2 separate regions of the Homo sapiens genome follow, and region 2 is linked to region 1. Evidence: fine-mapped expression QTL. Tissue or cell type: blood mononuclear cells. Region 1 holds a variant in brackets; the other region holds the start of a gene. All regions are shown on one strand. Distances are between the middles of the regions.

Region 1 (8,104 bases):
CTGCTCCCCAGCCCTTCTCTGTTCTCCTGCTACCCAAGGGTTCCAGCTTTGCCACCAGCTACTTATGTGTGACTTTTTGAAAATCACCCTACCTTCTGGGTCTCATCTGTAAAATGAGTGGATCTGACTCATTAGCTAGAGCTGTCAACGGCAGCATCTGCAACTCACAGGTGTGTTTTAATCACTGGCAAGGTACTTTGCAAGTGACTTTTTATATGATCATTAAGGTTTGATGGGCTTTTTTAAATGAATAGAGCAGATTCAAGGTTATCCCTTTGACTGTCATTCTCGGTAGCATTCTGGTGTGCTTTCTGAAACAGGAGAAAAATGGGTGGAGTTACAGGTAGCTCCAGGGATCACACATAAGCTTGGGGCACATACACCGTTGGGAGTGTGTTATGTTTCACACAGAAAAGTTGCCTGGTTATCTGTCATGTGTCTCAACAGCACAAAGACTGATCTATAAACTTTTCTGCTCCATCATCTTTTGGGCTATAAGGCCTGGTGTAAAAGAGATGGTTTTTATTTTATCTGGAGAAAAGACTGCTCTTGGAAAATGCAAATTTCCAAATATCTCCTGTGATGTAGTAGCTCCTCTTAAAATTTAAACTCACACAGAGACTTGAGGAGGTGATACTCTTTAAATTTTTTCATCTTCTTCTTTGGCTTTGCTTCCAGAAAGCGAGAGGAAGAAAACAAACGAAAAGAGGCAGAACAGCAAAAAGGAAGGCGGAGCCCAGATTCCTGCAGACCCCAGGCCCTTCCCTGTCTGCCTAGCACCCAGGATGTGCCCAGCAGGCAGAGCCGGGCCCCCAGCAAGCAGCCTCCTGCTGGCAACGTGGCCCAAGGCCCTGAGCCAAGAGACAGCAGAGGATCTCCAGGAGGGTCTCTAGGCGGAGCCCTCCAGAAGGAGCAGCATGTTTCCTCAGATTTGCAGGGAACAAACTCCAGAAGGCCAAATGGTAGGTGTATTGCCTTTGTCATCTTCTGCCGGCCCATGGACTGTGGGCTTTTTTGATTGGTGTATTTAGACCAATTACACTTAAGATAATTGTTATATTAGCACCTAGGACCGCCACTTTATGATTTGTGTTCTACTTGTTTCCTCTGGTTCTCAGTTCTTTTTCTTTTTTTTCCCTTCCTGTAGGTTACTTCAGCATTTTTAAAAATTCTATCTTGATTGATTTATGGTTTTTTGTTTTCTTTTCTTTTTTAGAGTGAAGTGTGAAAACCTCACTTCCATTCACTTTGTCCACTTTTACGTTTCATTGCTTAGGTATCGGATGGTGTTATAAATTTTGTTTCAATCATGAAATACAATTTATAAAACTCACAAAGGAAATAACATTTTATGCGCCCGCCTGTATTTCTGCTCTTCTGTTGTTTCTTCTTCCTTCCTGATGCTCTAAGATTCTTGTATCATTTCCTTTCTGTATGAAGAGCTTTCTATGGCCAATCTTTAAGGGTATGTCTGCTAGCAACAAATTCTTTCAGTTTTCCTTTGTCTGAGAATGTTTTTATTTGATTCCTGAAGAATCATTAAGCCAGATATAGAATTCAGGGTTGGCAGTTCTTTTCTTTTAGCACTTGAAAAATATTGTGCCATTTCCTTTTGGCTTCCATGGTTTCAGATGAGAAATCCACTGTCATTCAAATTGGTGTTTCTCAGTAACAGTCCTAGGTAATATGTCATTTCTCTCTGGCTGCTTTCAAGATCTTAAAATTTATCATTAGCTTTCAGAAGTTTAATATGATGTGTCTTGGCATGGCTTTTTGCAGTTTATCCTATTTAGAGTTTACTTGTGTGTCAGGGATCCCCATGATCCCCATCCCCAAGACTACCACCAGGTTTGGTGAGGTTGGAGGATTTACTAGTTTGACTGAGCATATAGTTGTACTCCCAGTTAGGATTTATTATAACAAAGGGACACAAAGCAAAATGAGCAAAGAGAAAAGGTGTATGGAGCAATGTCCAGAGGAAATTAGGCACGAGCTTCCAACGGCTCTCTCCCAGTGGAGTCACACACAACACGTTTAATTCCTTCTGCAATAAATTGTAACAACCAGTCAGACAATCTTTTGTTGACAAAGAAAGCTCACATGAACCTAGGACTCCAGGATTTTTATCTGGAGTCAGTCACATAGATACCCTCTGCCTAGCATATGCCAAAATTCCAGACTCCCAGAAGGAAAGGTGTGCAGCACGAACCCTATTGTTTGCACGAAGCAATTTAAACACACTGAGCTACTCTTATAAGTTAGAGAACGGTAGGAGCTTTCCCAAAATCTAAGTGCAAATGCCAACACAGTGAAAAAGGCAAATAATGTCTTCGTATTATTATGAAAATAGCCCTGACCTTATGGACTTTCTCAGAAAGGGGCTCTGGAACTTCATGATTACTGAATTCAGGGCTTGGACAGTTCAATCTGTTTCTTTGAACCTTAACTTCCTTAGCTATAAAGTGAGGGTATACTTTCTACACCACAAGGTAGCTATGGATAGAAATAATTCATGTAGTGTACTTGTTATAGCCCATAACTCATCATAGGTTTTCAGTAACTATTATTATTGAGCCACTCATTAATCTAGCCAAGAACAACTACAGAAAAGTATACATAAAATGACTACAGGCCGGGTGCAGTGACTCACACCTATAATCCCAACACTTTGGGAGGCTGGGGCAGGTGGATTACTTGAGGCCAGGAGTTCAAGACCAGCCTGGCCAACTTGGCGAAACTCCATCTCTACTAAAAATATACAAATTAGCCAGGCATCGTGGTGCATGCAACTCAGGAGGCTGAATCACAAGAATTGCTTGAACTTGAGAGGCGGAAGTTGCAGTGAACCGAGATTGCGTCACTGCACTCCAGCCTGGGTGACAGTGAGACTCTGTCTCAAAAAATATATATATCTAAAATGAATATAAACATTTCTGGAATATAATTCCATAATCCACTTTACAGTGTAATCCTTAAGGATTATATACTCATGATGCTTTGGTACATATTCATTCATTTATTCATCCAACCAGCTTTAATTAAGCTCCCATAATGTGACAGCCATGTTGAACTTCCTTGAGTTCTTTCTTAGCTTGGGGCCTTTGCAGATGCCACTCCCTCTACCTTATTTTTTAGATATCAGGGATAATGTTTCTTCTTCTGTTCAACCAATATCTCCCCGCTAAAGGAGGCTATAGTTTCCTGCTATTGCTTCCATACTTCTCCTATACTTCCCTCTTATAAAGATCATCACTTTTTACTGTTATTACTGGTTTACTTGTCATTTTTTCCACCAAACTGCAAGATCTGTAAGAGTAGGGTTGCTTCCATTATCTACTGCTGTATAACAAACCACACAAAAACAAAGTGACTTTGAACAATGACAATTTAATTTTTATGATTCTATTTTGGTTGGGAAGTTTGTTTACGGGCTTCATCTGGTCTCACTCATGTGTCTGCATTCAGGTGGAGAGTCAGTGGAATTCCATGTCTAAGATATAGTCACTTAAATGTCTAGCAATTGATGCTGGCTATCAGATGGGATTCCTTGACTCTGGTTTACGTGGTTTTCATCCTCCAGTAGACTAGACTGGCTTCCTTACATTGTGGTCTCAGGACAGCATTTTCAGAAAGCGAAGATAAAAGCCACAAGACCTCTTGAGAAATAGACTCTAGAATTTGCACACATTATATTGATCAAAGCAAGTTACGAGACCATCCCAGACCAAATGATGTCGAGAAATAGATTCCACCTTTGTGCATACTAAGATGGGAGGAATTTTTGGCTATTAAACAATCTGTCATAGTTCCTATTTGGTCACAGATTATTCACATTCCTCCCACATGCAAGATATTCTTACCCCTTGATATGGATTGGCTCTGTGTCCCCACCCAAATTCCCAGTGTTCGGGGAGGGACTTGGTGGGAGGTAATTGGATCATGATAGTGAGTTCTTACAAGATCTCATGGTTTAAATGTGTGTGGCACTTCCCCGCTCGCTCATGCTCTCTCCTGCTACCATGTGAAGAAGGTGCTTGCTTCCCCTTTGCCTTCCACCATGATTGTAGGTTTCCTGAGGCCTCCCAGTTGTGCTTCCTGTTAGGCCTGTGGAACTGTGAGTCGATTAAACCTCTTTTCTTTATAAATTACCCAGTCTCAGGTAGTTCTTTATAGCAGTGTAGGAACGGACTAATACATCCCTATCTCAGTACCCCAAAATCTCATCCTGATTATCTCATCACACTTGAAGTCTAGGATTTTAAGACATGAACTAGATGTGGTTCAGGTTCACCAGCTGGGACTCTTTCTGATTCAGAGACCAATGAGCCAAAAAGATACATTATCAACACCCCCCACACCCAACAAACAGTGGTAAGACAGGAACAGAATAACCACAGTAGACAAAAGAGGGTGGAATAGGAGGCGTATAGCAGCCATTAGTCCGTAGCAATTCTGAAAACCAGCTGGTCACATTTTACCAGGGCCCCTACTCTGAGGTAAATATTCCTTGATTAGGGTCTCATATTACTCCTGGTGGCTTCCTATTCCATTGTTCTCCATGTCTCTTGGCTCTGCTACCTGAATTCTTGGCTCTGCTCTCTGAGAAGTCCTTC[C/A]TTTTCCTAAGAAATGCCCATGTTTGCAGCTGAGTAGCTTTCTCAGCCTATCTCCTGACTATAGGATACTGGGGCCCCAGAGGCTTCTTTTTGATTTGAACTATGTCACCAGTTCAAGCTTGTGGTACTCTCAATAATGCGATTATCTCAAAAACTTCATGGGTTTCCTGCGAATCTGATTGGATTCATTTCATATTTCAAAAGCCACATCCATTATTTTTCAAACAAGCTTTGCTCTAATTTGAGTGGCTTAGATTTCTGTGGGAAAATGCCCTTGAGATTCTTAGAAATTTTTTTGTCGAGCTGAGAGGGCCTATTATGTACCACCTCAAATATTTTTGAGTCTTAATAAAGGGTTGTACAACCATACTTTTTTTTTTTTTTAAGACAGGGTCTCACCCTGTCACCCAGGCTGGAGTGCAGTGGTTCAAGCACAGCTCACTGCAACCTCTGCCTCCCAGGTTCAAGTGATCCCCCCATCTCAGCCTCCCGGGTGGCTAGGACCATAGGTGTGCGCTACCATGCCTGGCTAATTTTTTGCATTTCTTTTTTGTAGAGATGAGATTTCATCATGTTGCCCAGGCTGGTCTCAAACTCCTGGACTCAAGCAAACCACCTGCCTTGGCCTCCCAAAGGGCTGGGATTTTATAAGTGTTAGTTATTGTGTCCGCCCTGATTTGATCTTTATGCTGAGGCCTATGAGACTCTTTTGCTGGTTGGAAAGAATAAAAATGTTAAAATAGTTTTATTTTCTAACCCAGCACATCCCGGGATCTTTACATTATCTCTAAATTTTGCTTACAAACGGAGCAGTTTTTCCTTCATTTTATTTGTTTTCTCCCCATACTTTGTCATATGTAGCTTAAAAAGCAGTTGACATTTTGTTCTACATTCCACCTGGAAACTTCCTGAACTGTATCTACAGCTCCATTAGGTATATTTTCTATCTTCTATGTTACTGCAAGTGACAATTTTGCCAGTTAATTCTGCCACTGAATAACAAGGTTCACTTCTCTCTAGATTCCAACAGCAATTTCTTTTCTGCTCTTCGAGCCTTCACCAGCAGTCTCTTCATTGCCTTCCCAGCTTCTGCTCACCAACCAGTCCAAAGTCAATACCCTGGGTTTTGTATTTTAAGACAGTACCTCTCTTTTATAGATATAAATATCTGTGTTGGTTATCTCTTGTGGCATAATAAAACACTCCCAAAACTAAGTGGCTTAAAACAACAGAAGTTTATTATTTCTCACAGTCCCATGGGCTACCTGGGCAGTTCCTCTTCTCGATCACCTGGGCTCATTCATGAGGTTGATAGAATTTGCACAAGATGTGGCCAAGATGGCCGCCTTCATATATCTGGCAATTGGTGGTGGCTGTTGGCTGTCTCTATTCTCCTTTATATGGCCTTTTGTTCTCCAGTAGGTTAGACTATCTTCCTTACATATATTGTTCTCAGAGCAGTACTCTTGAGAGAAGGCAGAAACTGCATGTCACCCAGTTTATCCATTCACCTACTGAAGAAACATCTTGGTTGCTTCCATGTTTTGGCCGTTATGAATAAAGCTACTATAACATCCCTGTGCAGCTTGTATGGACATAAGTTTTCAACTTATTTGAGTAAATATAAAGGAGTGTGATTGCTGGATCTTATGTAAGAATATGTTTAGTTTTGTAAGAAACTGCCAAACTGTCTTCCAAAGTGGATGTACCATTTTGCATTCCTACCAGCAATGAATGAAAGTTCTTATTGCTCCACATCCCCACCAGCATTTGGTCACTGTTTTGGATTTTTGCCATTCTAATAGGTGTGTAGTGGTATCTTGTAGTTTTAGTTTTTTTTTTGGCCCGGTGGGGTGGGGGTTGCATATATGTGAAACATTGTAACAGCTCTAAGAGTCAGAGCTATACAAAAAGGTGGAGCCAGAGAAGTGTCTCTCACTCCCTCTTCATCTCTACTATCCAGCTCCCATTTCTCTTTTCTTTCCACCTCTTTCCCACTCAACTCCTGCAGGTAATCAATTTCTTTAGTTTTTGCTTTATGTTTTCTATATTTCTTTTTCACAAATGAGCAGATATAGGTATATTTTCTTATATCCCTTTCTTTCTTTCTTTGAGACAGAGTTTCGCTCTTGTCGCCTAGGCTGGAGTGCAGTGGCGCAATCTTGGCTCACCGCAACCTCTGCCTCCCAGGTTCAAGTGATTCTCCTGCCTCAGCCTCCGGAGTAGCTGGGATTACAGGCATGCACCACCATGTCCAGCTAATTTTTTTGTATTTTTAGTAGAGACAGGGTTTCTCCACATCGGTCAGGCTGGTCTCGAACTCCCGACCTCAGGTGATCTGCCCACCTCGGCCTCCCAAAGTGCTGGGATTACAGGCGTGAGCCATCACACCCAGCCCATCCCTTTCTTTCTTACATGAAGAGTAGTATAGTTTAGATAGCTCTTTTGCACTTAAGAGTATTTTATTTTACATTATTGAGACATAGTCTCACTCTGTTGCTCAGGCTGGAGTGCAGTGGCACAAACAGCTCACTGCACCCTCAACCTCCCAGCCTCAAGCGACCTTTCACCTCAGCCTTCTGAGTAGCTGGGACTACAGGCATGCACTACCATGTCTGGATAATTGTTTTTTTGTTTTATTTTTAGAAATGGGGTCTCACTATGTTGTCCCGGCTTGTCTCAGACTTGGCTCAAGCAATCCTCTTGCCTCAGCCTCCCAAGGTGCTGGGCCCACTGCACCCAGCCAGAACAGTTATTTTAAAGTCTGTTTCTGAAAACACATTATCTGGATAATCTATGTGCCTGTTTTATTAAGAATTTTTTTTTTTTCAGACGGAGTCTCGCTGTCACCCAGGCTGGAGTGCAGTGGTGCAGTCTCAGCTCACTGCAACCTCTGCCTCCCGAGTTCAAGCGATTCTCCTGCCTCAGCCTCCCAAGTAGCTGGGACTACACGCGTGCGCCACCATGCCCAGCTAATTTTCGTATTTTTAGTAGAGACGAGATTTCACCATGGTGGTCAGGCTGGTCTCAAACTCCTGACCTCATGATTCCTGCCTCGGCCTCCCAAAGTGCTGGGATTACAGGCATGAGCCACCGTGCCTGGCATATTTTTCAGTTTAGATGTTGTATTTGTTTTTCAAATCTATCCTTTTCTCGTATTTTAAACTTCTTTTGTGTGTTTAATCAACGTGTGTGTGCTAACGTTTTGAGAGATCTGATCTTGCTATTGTGTTAACTGTTGCTTATGGTACATTGTTTCCTCATGCATTTTGTGATTTTGGATTGTGAAGTCATTTTCAGAGGACTCCGTTGTGCAGCCTGAGTTGAGGGCATGTCACACTAAAGCAATATTGTGTTTGCTTCTGTGAGGCATCCTGGGATATCTCCATCCTAAGACCAGTTTTTATAGTAATATCTCCTATGGATTGAGAATAAATGAATACCAAGCCCATGTAAGGAAGACGACTTTGGTTTTAAATTCTTATGGGAGA
Region 2 (8,104 bases), 380 kb before region 1:
AGCTGCTGTGAAGACCTCTCACATGCCCTGGAAACATTTTCCCCATTGTCTTGGCGATTAACATTTGGCTCCTCATTACTTATGCAAATTTCTGCAGACAGCTTGACTTTCTCCTCTGAAAATGGGATTTTCTTTTCTGTCACATTGTCAGGCTACAAATTTTCCAAACTATTATGCTCTGCTTCCCTGATAAAACTGAATACCTTTAACAGCACCCAAGACACCTCTTGAATACTTTGCTGTTTAGAAATTTCTTCCACCAGATACCCTAAATCATCTCTCTCAAGTTCAAAGCTCCACAAATCTCCAGGGCAGGGGCAAAATGCTGGCAGTCTCTGCTAAAATATAACGAGAGTCACTTTTGCTCCAGTTCCCAACAAGTTCCTCATCTCTATCTGAGACCACCTCAGCCTGGACCTTATTGTTAATATCACGATCAGCATTTTTGTCAAAGTCATTCAACAAGTCTCTAGGAGGCTCCAAACTTTCCCACACTTTCCTGTCTTCTTCCGAGCCCTCCAAACTGTTCCAACCTCTGCCTGATAACCAGTTCCAAAGTTGCTTCCACATTTTTGGGTACCTTTTCAGCAACGCCCCACTCTACTGGTACCAATTTACTGTATTAGTCCATTTTCATGCTGCTGATAAAGACATACCCAAGACTGGGAAGAAATACAGAAGAACTGTATTTGGACTTACAGTTCCACATGGCTGGGGAGGCCTCAGAGTCATGGCGGGAGGTGAAAGGCACTTCTTACATGGCAGCAGCAAGAGAAAATGAGGAAGATGCAAAAGTGTGGAAACCCCTGATAAAACCATCAGATCTCTTGAGACTTATTTACTACCATGAGAACAGTATGGGGGAAATCGCCCCCATGATTCAAATTATCTCCCATGATTCAAATTATATCCCACCAGGTCCTTCCCACAACATGTAGGAATTATGGAAGTACAATTCAAGATGAGATTTGGGTGGGGACACAGAGCCAAACCATATCAGTGGGAGAAGCTTCCTAGGTGAGATGACTTTTGAGTCCAGCAGAATAAAGAGTAATTTCTTTACTCTGGGGTGGGGGGAAAGAGATGGGGGAAAGCAGGCAAAAAATGGCATTCTAAGAAGAAAGAGTAATAGTTGCAAAATCAATTTGGATTTTTTAAAATGTTTTATTATAGAAATCATAAAGGGGGCCTGGTGTGGTGGCACACACCTGTAATCCTAGCACTTTGGGAGGCTGAGGTAGGAGGATCACTTGAGCTCAGGAATTGGAGACTAGACTGGGCAACACAGGGAGTCCCAATTTCTAGAAAAATAAAATTAGCCCAGCATAGTGGCATACACCTGTGGTTCCAGCTTCTTGGGAAGCTGAGGCAGGAGGAGGTCAAGGCTGCAGTGAACCATGATCACCCCCATTGCACTCTAGTCTGGGTGACAAAGCAAGATTCTATCTCAAAACAAAACACGAAGGAAGGAAGGAAGGGAGGGAAGGAAATAAGAAAGGAAAGGAAAAGGAAGGAAGGAAATAAGAAAGGAAAGGAAAAAAGGGAAGGAAGGAAGGAAATAAGAAAGGAAAGGAAAAGAAAGGGAAGGAAGGGAAGGAAGGAAGGAAAAAAGAAAGAAAAGAAAGAAAAACAAGAAAGAAAGAAAAAGAAAGAGAAAAATCATAATGGGATTTTGATAAATTTTTAAGTTAGTTTGGTGGAAATGGACAACTTTACAATATTGACTGTATTACTTTTCCACATAGTCAAGTCTTTACTTGTATCTTATATGGAAATATGGAAGTCAGGTTAAAGTATAAATACTGTTACGTAAGATTTGAGTCTTACTCCTGTTATGTAGTATATGAGACTTGGACCTTGGTCAAGTTACTCTCTAAGCCTCAATTTCCTAGTTTGTATGAAGGGGGTGATTGTAATACCTACTTCATGGGTTGTCATCAGTATTAAATAACATATTGCATGTAAAGCGCCTAACCAAGTGCTTTACACATCACATGCAATCAAATAAAAAGCTACTTCTTCCCCCCTCCCTTTTTACATGGCTTTATTTAGGTATAATTCACATACAATAAGCACTTATACATAAACATATTTACAGTGTACAATTTGGTAAGTTTTGACATATATATACGTCCATGCAGCTATTACCACAATCAAGATAATGAACATTTCTATCACTCCCAAAGTTTCCTTATGCCCCTTTGTGATCCTTCCTTCCACCCCTATCCCTCATCTAGCTATTATTCTCAATTCTTCAAATAGGTCTTGTAATTCCTTATAAACACAAACTTGATTTTTGTCATTTTTGAATGTAATCTTCCTCCCAGTACATTTCAATTTTTTTTTTTTTTTTTTTTTTTGAGACAGGGTGTCAGTCTTTTCTGCAGGCTGGAGTGCAGGCTGGTGGGATCATAGTTCATTCCAGCCTCAAACTCCTGGGCTCAACTGATCCTCCTGTTTCAGCCTCCTGAGTAGCTGGGATTATAGGTACATGCCACCATACCCAGCTACGTTTTTTTTGTTTTTTTTAGAAATGGGGTCTCACTATTTTGCCCAGGTTGGTCTTGAATTTCTAGCCTCAAGCAATCCTCCCTCATTGGCCTCCCAAAGTGCTGAGATTATAGGCATGAGCCATCACGCCCAGTCTTCTTCTCATTACATTTTAAAATTGATGATTGTTGTTTAGGAGAGGTATTTTATAGCCATCTTATTGAATTAGTTTCAGTTTATTCCATGGATTTTCCAAGAAAGCAATCAATCATAACACCCTAAGAATTTTTTTTAATTTTCTTTCCAACATATACACTTAATGTTTTGTTTGGACTTGCTGGGTTCAGTTAGGACTTCAGGAAAATGTCGGCCAGTAGTAGCAGGCCTGCCCCTAACAACTTGATGACCTAGAGTACACAAAAGAGGTCCACACACCATATGTTTGAATATTTAAAGATTATAAATCAAGCTAACCAACAGTTAGATTAAAAGGTTTTGGTCGGGCATGGTGGCTCACACCTGTAATCCCAGTACTTTGGGAGGCCGAGGCGGGCGGATCACGAGGTCAGGAGATCAAGACCATCCTGGCTAACATGGTGAAACTCTGTCTCTATTAAAAATACAAAAAATTAGCCGGGCATGTTGGCACACGCCTGTAGTCCCAGCTACTCAGGAGGCTGACACAGGATAATCGCTTGAATCTGGGAGGTGGAGGTTGCAGTGAGCTGAGATCATGCCACTGCACTCCAGCCTGGGCGAAAGAGCAAGACTCTGTCTAAAAAAAAAAAAAAAAAAAAAATGTTTATCCTACTACTTTGACACACCTAACTTACAGCAAACATACATATAACAACTTAGAAGTCCAGGTCCAAATTTAGAATCTTTGAGTACCACACCTCCTGATTTTGTACCTGAGGAAGCTTTTTCAGAACTTAACACAAATGATCTTTTATTTCAAAAGATCTTATTTCACTGATCCTTGCATAAAAAACATTTTCTCACAGTATTGCCTAATACTTTAATTTTTCTCCTTAGAATCAAAATTTGATAAATACATTCTGGAGCTCATTGTAAAACAAATATCAGTATACATTATGTCCCCAAAGAAAATCCAAATTGCTTGGTAGATTTGGTGCTTTGTTTTAGAAATTGTCTTTCAAGGCTTTTTAAAGGATCTACAGGCCCCTAATCTTCCCTGTTTACCTCCTACTCTACTGGAAGACCCTAAGAACTCAGTTTCCTTAACTGTGGTTTGAACATCCTGATCACTTCTGAGACAATGCCATTAGTGAATACATTCTAAGCACGTCATCTGAATATTCACAGACATCTTTTTAAAAGGGCTGGATCTGGAAGTTAGGCCATGAAGAGAGGAGGACCTGTGACTTGGACAAGGCTTCAAAGCCGGCCACCTGCTTGTTCATGTGGTTGCAGCTGGTCTAACTGGAATAACTTGGGAAGGAAATTAGGACACCCAGTTGGAGTTCCAGCTCTGCCATAAGCTGGCTGAACTGGAGTGAGTCACTTAAAACTCTTTGTTAAACCCCAGAGTCATAATCTATAAAATCGGGATAAAGACGTTTGCCTTAAGCCCTCCACCAGTTTTTGGAGGAAACCACAATTTGCTGAGCTTTAATTTTTACACCTGTTGCAATTAAGATGGCACTCCTGCCCTGTCCACTTCACAGGGCTTTTGGGGACGGGATGGGGAGGCACCACCTTTCTGAGCTTCAGTTTCAAAACAGAGCTAAGAATACATGCCCAACCCGCAAATAAAATTCTAGGAAGAACAGAGGAAAACGGACAGGAAAACTGCGAAATGCAGTCGGCCATACAAGCATGAATTGTCTTAAACACAACAAGCAGACCTAAAGAGCGTTTGTGCGTCTCTCTCCTCTTGGCTCGAGTCACAACCCCATAACGTAAATCAATATCACTTTTGAAAAAGGCTTTCGCTGTTCTCAGCAGCGTCCGCATTTGTACTCACCTGTGCGCCCCCAGCGCCCGGCCTGGGGGCCCTGCGGGGCGGGGGCGGGGGCGGGGGCGGGGCCCAACCCTGCCCACCCCTCGTGATGCCCCGCCCCGTCGCTCCTGCGCCTGCGCCGTGCCCACCGACCGGCCTCGAGCGCCCCGGCGGGAGGTAAGGGGCTCTCTGGAGGCCGCCTTTGGGGGCGTCGGGCCCTCACAGGCTTGGTGGGCCTGGCGCCCGTGTGGCGCGCGCAAGAGGCGCTGGGCGGCAAGTAGGGCATTGGATCCGAAGTGCGAGCGCCATGGTGGCTCCTCCTGTTTTTCAGAAGTGGCGGAGCCTCGCTTGGTTTCGTTTTTGGAAGCTTTATTGGAAGCTGGTATAGGGAGGCCGCAGACGATGCGAGCAGGACGGCCTCCCGGGGTCGCGGGGTGGAAAAGTTTCCGGCGCGCGTCCTGTCTCTGGCGCGCTGTAGGCCCCGGGTCGCCAGGGTCGCTGGCGTCTGGGTCCCGGGACAGACCCGCGCATCCGTTCGCTGGTGGGGGCGTTTGGTGTGTGTGGCCCAGGTGTGCTGTGGGTGACACTGCGAGGAATGACGCGACGCTCGATGGTAGTGAGGCTCGGAGGACTGGGAGCGAGAGGCCGGAAGCCCCTGCTCGCCAAACCCAGAGGTGGTTGGCAGAAGGTCCCACACCTTGGCTCCCTCCTTTTAGCTAACCGAGGTTCAGAGAGGAGACTTTACTTTGACTTTTCTCTCCAAATTCGGTATCTCTTCCATAAGTCAGAAACATTAAGCGGCGGGCCGGAAGAAATCGGGCGCCACTAGTATCCTGAAAAGTGGGAGCTCTGGGCCGATGGAAGGTGTTCGTCACTTTTGGGGGCTGGGTTTCCTGAGAAATGGGGTCTTTCACTTATTAATAACCTCCTAAGTAACTTACTGGGAAACATGAGTATTATGGTACCCATCTCATATTAGTTGTAAGCACTACATGATAAAGTTTGTAAAGCACCTGGCACAGTCCTGGCACCCCTCTCTCCAAGTATTAATGCAGTGAATACGATGGCAGTTCTTTGACTTCTAAATGTTTTTACCTGTCTTACGTGAAACATCCTCTTATACTAAAAAACTTTTTTATTTTGAAATAATTTTAAAATTACAGAAAAGTTTCAAAAGTAATACAGAGTTCCCTATTGCCTCCATTAATAATTTTTTACATACCATAGCGCAATTATCAAAAGCAAGAAGTTAATATTAGTATAATACTATTAACTGAATTACTAACTTGTGATTTTTTTTCCTGTATTAATGTCCTTTTTCTATTCTAGGATCCACTCTAAGACCCGACATTGCAGTTAGTTGTCTTGGGTCCTTGGTCTCCTCCAGTCTGTGACAGTTCCTCTGTCTTTTCCTGTCTTTACACTGATAGTCTTTTTCTGTCTTTATACTCTTTCTGATCTTTACACTTTTGAAGAATGCTGGTCAGTTATTTTGTAGAGTGCCCCTCAAATGGGGTTTGTCCAGTGTTCTCTCATGATTAGATTAAGGTTATACATTTTTGTTAAGAACACAAAAGTGTGTGTGCCCTTCTCAGTTCATCATATGAGCATAGCTGATATATATGACTTATTGCTCGTGAGGTTAATCTTGATCACTTGGTAGAGAGTGTCTGCTGGGATTCTCCAATGTAAAGGTCTTATTTTTCTCCTTATAATTGACATCTTGGGGGGGAGCTTTTAAACCGTACGCATATCCTGTTTCTCCTCAGACTTTCCCTTGCTAAATTTCACATCCATTGGTGGATCTTGCCTTCAGCAATTATTATGACTATGGTGTTCTAATGATGATTTTCTACTTTCCTCATTTCTTTATTAATTGAAATTATTCTGTAAGGATGAGCTGCCCATTTCCCATTTGTTTATTTGTATTCCGTTATTTATTTGTATCCATGTGGACTTAGATGTTTTTCTATTGGTTGTTATCCTACACTTGTGTTATTTTATGTTTGAAATTGTTCCAGCTTTGATCATTGGGAGTTTTCTTTCAGGTTGCTTTCTGTAGCTTTTCAGCATGCTTCCATCCTTTTTTTTCTTTTTTGGAACTTCCTAATTTTCTGGTACCATAGGATGCCCCAGGCTCATCTTGTGTTTTCTGTGCCTCAGCCCTGATAGTCAGCCACTTCTCCAACGACCCGTAGTTTCTTTTTTTGGAGAATAGTATTTAAACACAAAGATCTGTGCTCTAGGGATGCTCATTGCTACTGGGGTAACATTGCTTCCAGGGCCCCACAGAAGACACCAGTCTATACATATGCATACCCATGCATACACAAAGATCTATGTTTATTTCTGTATTTGTCTATCCATATACTTTTTAAAAACAAAAGTTCATCCCAGTAGCTTTGCTTCTAGTCTAACACCACAGGGTTCATTCTAGTTTTGTCCCTTATTTTTAACTTTTTATCTGACAGTGAGAAATCTGACTCTTGGCATTCTACAAAATATTTTCTTATTTCTTCAGTCCTAGTATACACATAAAGTAATTTCAGGATTTCTGACCTATGTTCCTGTGAGAAACACATTTACTAAATAGAGTACAGTGTAGTTCTTTTTGTCTCTAGGCTTATAGTATTCAGTTAAAATATTGTTTTCTAAAGTGGCTTAGATAATTTTTCTTCCTCACTTCTTTCAGTGTGGTTATGCTATTCGTTTATAATACAGTTTATGTTTTTATAGTTTATATTCCATTTTGGAGGGAAAGAGTCTAAAGGTAGACTAATTGAAGCTCCATTATCATGGCTATGCATATTGTGCTATTTGACTAGAGTGATAGGATTAGCAATTGTATAGAAGGGACGTGTGAAGAAATATTTTAGTTCAGGCAGCATCTATTGAACAACAGGTGTGTTCAAAAAACATTTTGATAGGAATGATGGTAGATATAAAGATAATCTCTTTGTGGTATAGAAGAAAAGAAAAGAGGCAGTGTGATAGATTGGGAAATGTTAATGTTAGACAAATAATTGATACATTTAACATGTAATAGCCTTTTATGAGTTAATAAGAGAAAGACATCCCCTGTAGTAAAAACAGATGCATATGACATGAACAGGCAATTCATGAAAGAAGAAATGCAATGAGTACAAAAAAATAGTGATAGAGGATGAATAAAATATAGTACTTGATAGCCGAACAGGGTGACTATAATAATTCAATTGTATATTTAAAAATAACTAAAAGAGTATAACTGGATTGTTTGCAACACAAAGAATAAATGCTTGAGGTGATGGATACCTCATTTACCCTAATGTGATTATTACACATTGTATGCCTGTATCAAAATAACTCAAATATCCCATAAATATATACCTACTACTAATATATACCCACAAAAATTAAAAATTAAAAAAAGAAGAAATGCAGCTGGGCATGGTGCCTCACACTTGTAATCCTAGCACTTTGGGAGGCCGAGGCAGGTGGATCACCTGAGGTCGGGAGTTCGAGACCAGCCTGGCCAACATGGTGAAACCCCGTCTCTACTAAAAATACAAAAATTAGCTGGGCGTGGTGGCACGTGCCTGTAATCCCAGCTACTTGGGAGGCTGAGGCAGGAGAGTCACTTGAACCTAAGGGGCGGAGGTTGCAGTGAGC

The links. PIP is the estimated chance that this variant, and not a neighbour inherited with it, causes the effect.
Region 2: STX17 starts here. The variant in region 1 is fine-mapped to the expression of STX17 in blood mononuclear cells (TOPMed, PIP above 0.99).

Annotation. Positions count from the first base shown.
Region 1 is chr9:100,283,642-100,291,745 of GRCh38, forward strand. It overlaps INVS (inversin), which reads left to right. Exons shown (of 17, transcript NM_014425.5): 13 at 679-962. It overlaps LOC124902235 (a long non-coding RNA gene), which reads right to left and starts at 680. Exons shown (of 2, transcript XR_007061700.1): 1 at 1-680. RefSeq lists enhancers at 295-795, 796-1,296. The variant C/A (reference allele first, on the strand shown) is at 4,614.
Region 2 is chr9:99,902,077-99,910,180 of GRCh38, forward strand. It overlaps STX17 (syntaxin 17), which reads left to right and starts at 4,578. Exons shown (of 8, transcript NM_017919.3): 1 at 4,578-4,630. STX17-DT (STX17 divergent transcript) reads right to left here and starts at 4,525. Exons shown (of 3, transcript NR_038853.1): 1 at 4,478-4,525. RefSeq lists a silencer at 4,317-4,716 and an enhancer at 4,877-5,116.